Regions from separate parts of the Homo sapiens genome. Here region 2 is linked to region 1. The links come from fine-mapping of genetic effects on gene expression. A gene starts in region 1. The other region holds a variant in brackets. All regions are shown on one strand. Distances are between the middles of the regions. Region 1 holds the start of DNAJC2 (DnaJ heat shock protein family (Hsp40) member C2). Region 2 overlaps RELN (reelin).

The links. PIP is the estimated chance that this variant, and not a neighbour inherited with it, causes the effect.
Region 2: its variant is the best candidate, but not a certain one, in a credible set for the expression of DNAJC2 in prefrontal cortex (ROSMAP, PIP 0.52).

The regions. Positions count from the first base shown.
Region 1 is chr7:103,342,371-103,346,770 of GRCh38, forward strand. It overlaps DNAJC2 (DnaJ heat shock protein family (Hsp40) member C2), which reads right to left and starts at 2,397. Exons shown (of 17, transcript NM_014377.3): 1 at 2,189-2,397. The coding sequence starts at 2,252. It also overlaps a transcript of PMPCB not described here. RefSeq lists an enhancer at 2,340-2,579.
Region 2 is chr7:103,474,416-103,478,815 of GRCh38, forward strand. It overlaps RELN (reelin), which reads right to left. Exons shown (of 65, transcript NM_005045.4): 64 at 3,974-3,979. All of the region lies in intron 2 of SLC26A5-AS1 (SLC26A5 antisense RNA 1), which reads left to right. Among named protein-coding and RNA genes, the nearest start is that of SLC26A5, 30 kb to the left of the region's middle. The variant G/A (reference allele first, on the strand shown) is at 1,919.

The sequences.
Region 1 (4,400 bases):
TCTCGGCTCAATGCCGTCTCCACCTCCCGGGTTCAAGTGATTCTTGTGCCTCAGCCTTCCAAGCAGCTGGGATTACAGGCATGCGCCACCATGCCCAGCTAATTTTGTATTTTTAGTAGAGATGGGGTTTCTCCATGTTGGTCAGCCTGGTCTCGAACTCCCGACCTCAGGTGATCTGCCTGCCTCGGCCTCCCAAAGTGTTGGCATTACAGGCGTGAGCCACTGCACCCACCTGGACAATTTTTTTTTTTTTTTTGGGACGGAGTCTTGCTCTGTCACCCAGGCTGGAGTGCAATGGCGCGATCTTGGCTCACTGAAAGCTCCGCCTCCCGGGTTCAAGCGATTCTCCTGCCTCAGCCTCCCGAGTAGCTGGGACTACAGGCACCCGCCACCACCCCCGGCTAATTTTTTGCATTTTTAGTAAAGACGGGGTTTCACCATATTAGCCAGGATGGTCTTGATCTCCTGACCTCGTGATCCACCCACCTCGGCCTGCCAAAATGCTGGGATTACAGGCGTGAGCCACCGCGCCCGGCCTAGACAAATAATTTTAATAAAGTAATAAATAGTGATAAATTGTCACGAAGAGCTAGCCTCACCAAAAATAAAAAATCTAAAAACAACTCAAACTATCTTTTTATTTTTTGAGACGGAGTTTTGCTCTTGTTGTCCAGGCTGTAGTGCAATAGCGCAATCTCGGCTCACTGCAACCTCCGCCTCCCGGGTTCAAACGATTCTTCTGCCTCAGCCTCCCAAGTTGCTGGGATTATAGGCGCCCGCCACCACGCCCAGCTACTTTTTTGTATTTTTAGTAGAGACAGGGTTTCACCCTGTTAGCCAGGCTGGTCTCGAACTGCTGACCTCAGGTGATCCACCTGCCTCGGCCTCCCAAAGTGCTGGGATTATAGACGTGAGCCACCGCACCCAGACAACTCAAACTGTCTTAATTATTAAAATCTTGAATATAGCTCTTAAAAATTTTAAGAATTCACTAACAAGAATTTGTCCTGAAAGCAATTTTCCAAGCAGCAAATGGGAATTTACTAATGCAGCTAAGCTGTAGTGGAACAAGCTCTCAATCTGAAACCAGACACTCTGGGTTTTAGACTAGGTCTGACAGTGGCTATGTGACCTGAAATGAATCAGGATGTCTTCACCTGTAAAATGGGAACAATACCTATTTATCTCATTCAGTTCCTAGGAAGCTTGAATGAGACCACAGAAACTCTCTGAAATTACAAACTTGTAGTAAAGGTATCATCTATTCCTGGGAAGTGGGGGTAAATCACTGTACATGTGTATACTAGCAATTCAAAAAAGGAAAATCCCTGAACAACTTATTTTAAGATTTCCTCCACCTTACACAGGAGAGGATTAAAACACTGTCAAAAAGGTACTACCTGTGTAGTATGGGTGTGTGGCTTTTAAGAACACTGCCTTTTAAGCCTTTTGCTCTAGTTGTAAGAGGCACACGGAGACACATAAATGCAACACGTGCCATGGGTTATGTTCAAAATCACATTCAACAAGCGCCTATGTGACTGGCTATGGGAATTACTGTAGATCACTGGACCTGAAGACTCTTAAGTTTACAATACTCATGACTGTCCTGGGCCATAAAACTAAAACCTACAGCAGCAGGACAAGTTTCACTTGTAATAACTGCCTTTCAAAGTCTACGCGGATCTTTTCAGCAGCACAGTCTTTGAACACCGAGTATGAGGAGCGGTGTCTGAGTTGTGACATTTAAAAAACAAGGCCGGAGCAAACGTAGAGAGGGAGAAAGTTGTTTAAGAGAGCGCCAGTAGCAAAGCTTTGTACGACCCCAGGCACGTGGGGTGCTCGCTGCGCGTAGTCTTTCCACCGTAGGCAAGGAGATGCTTATGAGAACCTTTCTGGGGTGCTGGGGGGTTCCGTCCCGAAATGCTCAGCCCAATCCATGAGTCAGCAGCGGCGAGAGGAGGAAGCAACGGTAGGAGCAAAAGGAAGGCACCCCTCACCCTCCTTCCTTCTAATCTAGGGTAGGATTACTTTAAAACACGGAGCAAAAAGGCACTCGTCACGGCCCCATACGGCCCCGGGGCTAGTCGCCAGGGTCAAGGGTAGAGAGAGCCCAGGGTTGCCGAGGCGGAGGACTGAGGCAGGGGCAGCTGAGGTGAGAAGGAACCGAGGTTGGGTGGGCACTTACCAGAGGTCAGAGCGTGGGTGATGGCGGTGCCCCGGCCGTCCGCGGCGCTTGGCAGAAGCAGCATGATGGCGCCGGGTCTAGCCCGGTGGGCGCAGCGGCTCACGTCCCGGGCGGAGGGCGCTTAGGGTCCCCTCCAGCTCTACCTCTCACTCCGAGCCTCGCGCCTTGGCTCTAAGACGCCCAGGAACCGGCGCATGGAGACGACCAGTAAGCACTTCCGGGATGGATCTTTCGTGGTGTGGAGGCCAGTCTCACACCCTCCCACCCCCGCCAACGTGTGCGGTAACCTAGTTCTATACTGACTGAGATCCGGCTGGAGACCAAGTCGCACGAGAGAATGGTTCCTAGGCGCATCAGTTTTCCTGTAAAAAGGATTATATTCCACGTCCCAGTGCAATACATAGAACATAACCTTTAAAAGCAGTTCTTTTTATATTATCTTTAAGTTCTTACTGCTTTATGTATTAATCTGAACCTAATCAGTGATTTTCCCAGGAGCGCTATACTTTTAAGTAAAAAATGAAAATACCTGTATGAACCAGTATCGACGACTAGTATATACATTTGCGGAGAATTACGTACGTGTATTTGTGATACATTTGTGTTTAACTTGATGATGATAATAGCAGCTAATATTTGTCGTGCTATTACTAATTTACCTGCATTATATCTTTTAATACTCGCTTGGAGAAGAAACCTCTCTCTAGTGTGTTAGATTGTATTCCAAGGCCAGCAATATTTTTACCTTGTTCTAATGAAGTTTTTATTCAAGATATTCCCAATTATAGGACTCTGGGACTTAATTTTTTAATGTATAATAAAATCAATTGTATTCCTACTATATGCTTCCTTCTAAGACTGCAGTCAAAAGCAAAAACTAGCAAAAACAAACAGTGGGTAAAGGCTCACCCCCAACAGCAGTATCTGAAACAGGTTCAATAAAATAAACTTGATATGCCACTCTTTAGCAAGGACCACCAGAAATTAGTAAATTAGAAAATAACTTACTAATTTCATTATATTTTCACAATTAAAGTTTTTAAATATATTATATATATATATATGTATATTTTTTTTTGTAGAGACAGGGTCTCACTATGTTGCCCAAGGTGGTCTTGAACTCCTGGCCTCAAGGGATCCTCCTGCCTCAGTCTCCCAAAACTCTGGGATTAGAGGCGTGAGTCACTGTGCCAGGCCAATTAAATACATTTAATTGGTCTGTATATCTGCTGCATGATAAAATTGTCACTTCAAAACTGACTTTTCAAAAATTGAACTAAGGGAGGCTGAGGTGGGAAGATCGTTGAGGCCGGGAGGTGGAGGTTGCAGTGAGCTGAGATCACACCATTGCGCTCCAGCCTGGGTAACAGTGAGACCCCGTCTTTAAAAAAAAAAAAATTGAACTAATCTTCTGCCCCAAAACCTCTTCCTGATCCCTACTAATGCAACCACTGTTAAAACATGCTCCAAGGTGCAAAGTAACCTGACTCCACTTTCTTCATATTAATATATTTTTTTCCTCACACCTCCTCCCATTCAATTTTACCATTAACTCTAACATGGGTTTTTGTTTTTTTGTTGTTTTCTTTTCTGAGACAGAGGCTTGCTCTGTCGCCCAGGCTGGAGTGCAGTGGCCTGATTTCGGCTCACTGCAATCTCTGCCTCCCAGGTTCAAGCGATTCTCCTGCCTCAGCCTCCCGAGTAGCTGGGATTACAGGTGCGTGCCACCACGCCCAGCTAATTTCTGTATTTGTAGTAGAGACGGGGTTTAGCCATGTTGGCCAGGCTGGTCTCCAACTCCTGACCTCATGATCTGCCTGCTTCAGCCTCCCAAAGTGCTGGAATTACAGGGGTGAGCCACGGTGCCCGGTCGGGGGTTTTGTTTTTTAAAAAAATTGTGCTAAAACACACATAACATGAAATTTACGATCTTCACCGTTTTTAAGTTTACAGTAATGTTAAGTACATTCACATTATTGTGTAACCACCCTACAAAACTATTTTTATCTTACAAAACTGAAACTCTATACCCATTTAATCTCTTACAAAACTGAAACTATGCCAGTGGAAAAAACTGTCCACTGGAAACCATCCTTCTACTTTGTCTTTAGGAATTTGACACCTCTAGGTACTTCATATTTGTGGAATCATATAGTATTTGTCTTTTTTGTGACTGACTTATTCACTTAGCATAATGTCTTCAAGGTTCATC
Region 2 (4,400 bases), 130 kb after region 1:
GAGAAAAAGATTTCAAAAAAATCAGGTTTTGTCTTTAGGCAGATTTACTATCCTCCCCCTCCCATCCCCTCCATGTGACAATATTACATGTATCAACTAAGTTGATCAGTTTCAGTGTCACAGTTGAATGACCCAAATTTATCCATTTATTAGCTGCTATAAGTACTAACTGCTGCCTATGTAAAATTGAGTTACAAAAAAACCCCCAAGGAATTAATGTATTGAACTAATCAAGTGTCAAGAAAAATTATCCTGTTGCTCCTTTATTCACAAAATCTTGGGACTGGAACTAGCTGTGTTACTGCCAGCATCCTCAGTCGCCTTATAGTTCTTTCCCTGAGCTATTATAGTGGCCCCCTGAACTAGCCTCCTTAACTTTTTTCCTTTTATGAAAAAAAAAAAAAACTCCACTGAAAGGAAACCCCTGAAATACTAAGAAAGTATAACTGAATGCATAATTGTATACATGTGCATGTATACCTTCCTACACATACATGCAGTTGATTTTGCACACCAGATTCAGTAAACTTTTCCTCAAACACTGGCTTCACTTTGCCCAAAACCATGCAGAATCCTCTTATCTATGGAGCAACAGCTAAGCCAACTTAAACAGACGTTTCAAGTCCTCTTCATGCTTAATCTTATTCTGCCCTTTATTTTTCTACATTCCTATACAAACTGCTCTACTCAAACGCCTTGAGTCCTTTCTACCCGCCTCATTGGCCAGCTGTCAACATCACTTCCTAGATTCTACGTGTTCAAGTATTACATTTTCTTTGTTTACTCCCTCTATAAGTGAACTTTTTTTTTTTTACTTTGAACTCTCATAGTGCTCATTTCCTGCTTTGAAGGAGTTTGTGTTCATATCTTGGCTCCCCACAACTAAACTTTTGTTGGTATGGGGGCCAGTCCCCCAACTCCCCCCACCCCCGCACCATAGCACTGAGCCTCCTGCCTGACCCGTGCATGGGTGGTCAAGGCATGTTTGTTGAACTTATGGTGACTTACTGATTGGATTCCTGCTGTAAATCATTACTCTATAACTATAAGGAATAATTGCAAAGTTAAAGCAATGAAAATTATTCTGTTAAAACACGTTTAAAGGTATAAGGTACTCAAAGAGAATTTAAAATAGTTAAAATATTTTACATAAAAAAAGATGAAGTTAGAACACTCAAGATATTTTGTTATCTCAATGCAACCTAGATTGACATGAAAGTTACCTTAATATATGGGAACAAAAGAACATTCAGTTTTAACAAAACTTGATGTGCTTACTTAACAGCTTTAAAGCAACGTCTCCATATAATTATTTACTTATTATGGAGCTGATTGAAAGTCTCCATCTTTATAGGTGAGAAAATAAATACTAGCAGGTTGCAGATCTTTAGTGCCCTAAAAACTAGTCCAAGGTAGAAGCTTAAAACCAATTTAGGGGACATTTTGAATCACTGGATGTTCTTTTTTTAAATAACATTTTTTTCTTAAAAGATTTTAAATATATTTCTAATTTTTTTGGTAGAGACGGGGTCTTGCTATGTTGGCCAGGCTGGTGTCGAACTCCTGGCCTCAAGTGATCCTGTTGCCTTGGACTCCCACAGTTCTGGGATTACAAGCATGGCCACTGTGCCTGGCCTGGGTGCTCTTTAATTTTGAAAAAGTTTATGTATCAGTATCATATCTTTGGATTCCTGAGAATGTTGATATGCATATAGTAATGGACTTGCTATAGATGCCTAGTGTTTATATAGTCACATTAAAAATGGCAGCTGGGTGCAGTGACTCACACCTGTAATCCCAGCACTTTGGGAGGCTGAGGAAGGCAGATCATGAGGTCAGGAGATCAAGACCATCCAGCTAACAGAGTGAAACCCCATCTCTACTAAAAATACAAAAAATTAGCTGGGTGTTGTGGCAC[G/A]CCAGGCATGGTGGTACGCGCCTGTAGTCCCAGCTACTTGGGAGGCTGAGGCAGGAGAATTGCTTGAACCTGGGAGGCAGAGGTTGCAGTGAGCTGAGATTGTGCCACTGCACTCCAGCCTGGGGCGACACGGTGAGACTCTGTCTCAAAAAACAAACAAACAAACAAACAAAAAAACCACACTATCAAAGCATCGTGGAAACTAGGTGGTAATTTGGTATGTGAAATATAAAAATCTTTTGAGTCAGTTAGGTTGAAATCTAATGAAGTGGATATTTCCAGTTTATGAGCCTTTGAAAATCAACCATTATGGCAAGCTATACTAAAATGCTGTCTGCCTCTAAGACCACTTAATAAATTGACATGGTTACTAAACAGTTATTGTACCTTCTAAAATGTCTAACAGCATTGGGAATTAGGGGAATTTTTAACATTTATCTTATATTTACTCATTTTTTGGTGTGATATATTTGTGAGCCTATTTTTTGTTTTTGATACATTTTGATGTACAGCTATAGATAACCTTATAACTGAAATAAGAAGTGCAATGAACTTTTAAAGATTTATTTATTCACTGCAATTACCAGAGAAAGTAATTTTTATTTTAAGTTCAATAAAAGGAGGTAATGTTCATCCCAAGGCACATCAGCTATGCCACTTGACATATCAATTTGCTTTGGTTGTGGATAGAACTAGGTCCATTTTTAAATTCTTCCATTATGAGTAAGTAATTGAAAGAAGGGAGAATGAACAACAAAGGCTTCTTGGAAATGATAATGTAAATGTCCATTATTGCCAAGGGAGTTTAGGGACTTAGATGGCATATAGAATTATAACGTGTTTCCTTGTTTCTGCATAGGAAATATGGCCATTGCAAGATCTTTGAATAACTAGTGACTCTGTGCTCTTTTGAACTGTTACTCTTTAAAGGAGACACAATCTTAGTTCATTTATTATGATGAAAACAATTCAATTGATTTTTTAATGGATTCTAAAGGAAATGGAGGAGATAGAGAATTGATACTAATTTGAGCTCATAGAAATATAGGCATTTCTACTTGTCAGTAATTTATCACCAAAACATATGGTAGAACAAATAATGATTTATATGAATGCAGACATAAGAATCCAGTGGACTGTTCAACATATCTTAGAAATATTGGTGAGTGTAAGGCAGGAAGCTGCCATTCAAACTATCACTGAAACTTCCCTGCATAGAGGATGCCACACATTTGACTTAAAGGCCATGCATTTTCAGGAAGGCTATGCATAAATAAGTGCAGACACAAACATCTCACACATACTGAAGATTTCATATTTCTCTTCTCTGCTAAATGGGGATGAGAATAATATCCAATAATGTGCACCTCAGGGAGCTGTAAGGATTAAATGAAAACTAGCACTATATATAGATGTTCAATAAATTATAACCATTTTGCCTTCTTAAATTTTAAAGAATCTCAGAGGACAAATACAAGAATATATTAAAAGTGGCCAATCTTACCTAAGGACAAGATCTAGAACTCCTAAGTATTATGAATACATCTACTCCGTCTGCCAATTCAGTTATTAACTTAGAGGAGAATTGGTAAGTCAAGGGACCCTCATGCATCTTCAGCATAGTAGGTCTTTTGAAAGACATTCCATTTAATCAGAGTCCCTAAATCTTTTGCACACATTTCTATTTTCCCTTGTCCCTCATAACAAATTTATCAACTGTGAGCACTTCAAGGGCACCCAATACGGTGTCAAGCACAGAGCAGAATCTAAGTCAAATCTGTTGCCCAATGATGAAATGCTGACTAGCACTCTGGTCTATGCTGTTGTGCCCTATATTGTATATATTAGGGACTTATCTCAATTTGACTGACTCCGAATTTACATGGAAATAAGTTTCAAATGTTCCACTATATACCAGTATCATTTATTACTGTTTTCATAGATTTTTTTTTTTTTTTAGTTGCAAAGGTGCTTTACAAAACTTCTCAGTTAAGTTTGGTGTCACTGATGAAACTATTAGTAAACAGTTCCCCAGATTTAGTAAGGAGGACTTACCTTACTCTAGTGGAAAACCAATGACAGCAAATAATGAAATATAACACAAGTTAAAAAATGCCTTTCAATGCATGCAGCACTGTGATTAGTCATAAAAGTCTGATCAGGTTTAGACGCAATATAGGATTTTTCATCTCTTTTGAAAATAAAAATTAAAGAAGTTATTTCTTATTCTTCTATACCCAAGATCTACATATACTTTTCTATGTAATGTAACATGCAATATTTGCTCATAACCATATGTTAAGGTACATGTAGCTGTAGTACTACATTTGGCATAAATGTTGCATATAAATTATAAATATTAATAGCTTAATAACTACTAATTTTATTATCTGATTTTTCAATTATTTTACATTGTAAGAAATACTAATTCCTGAATATATTAAGGAATGGGCTTTAAAAAATACAGAAGTCTCCTATGTCA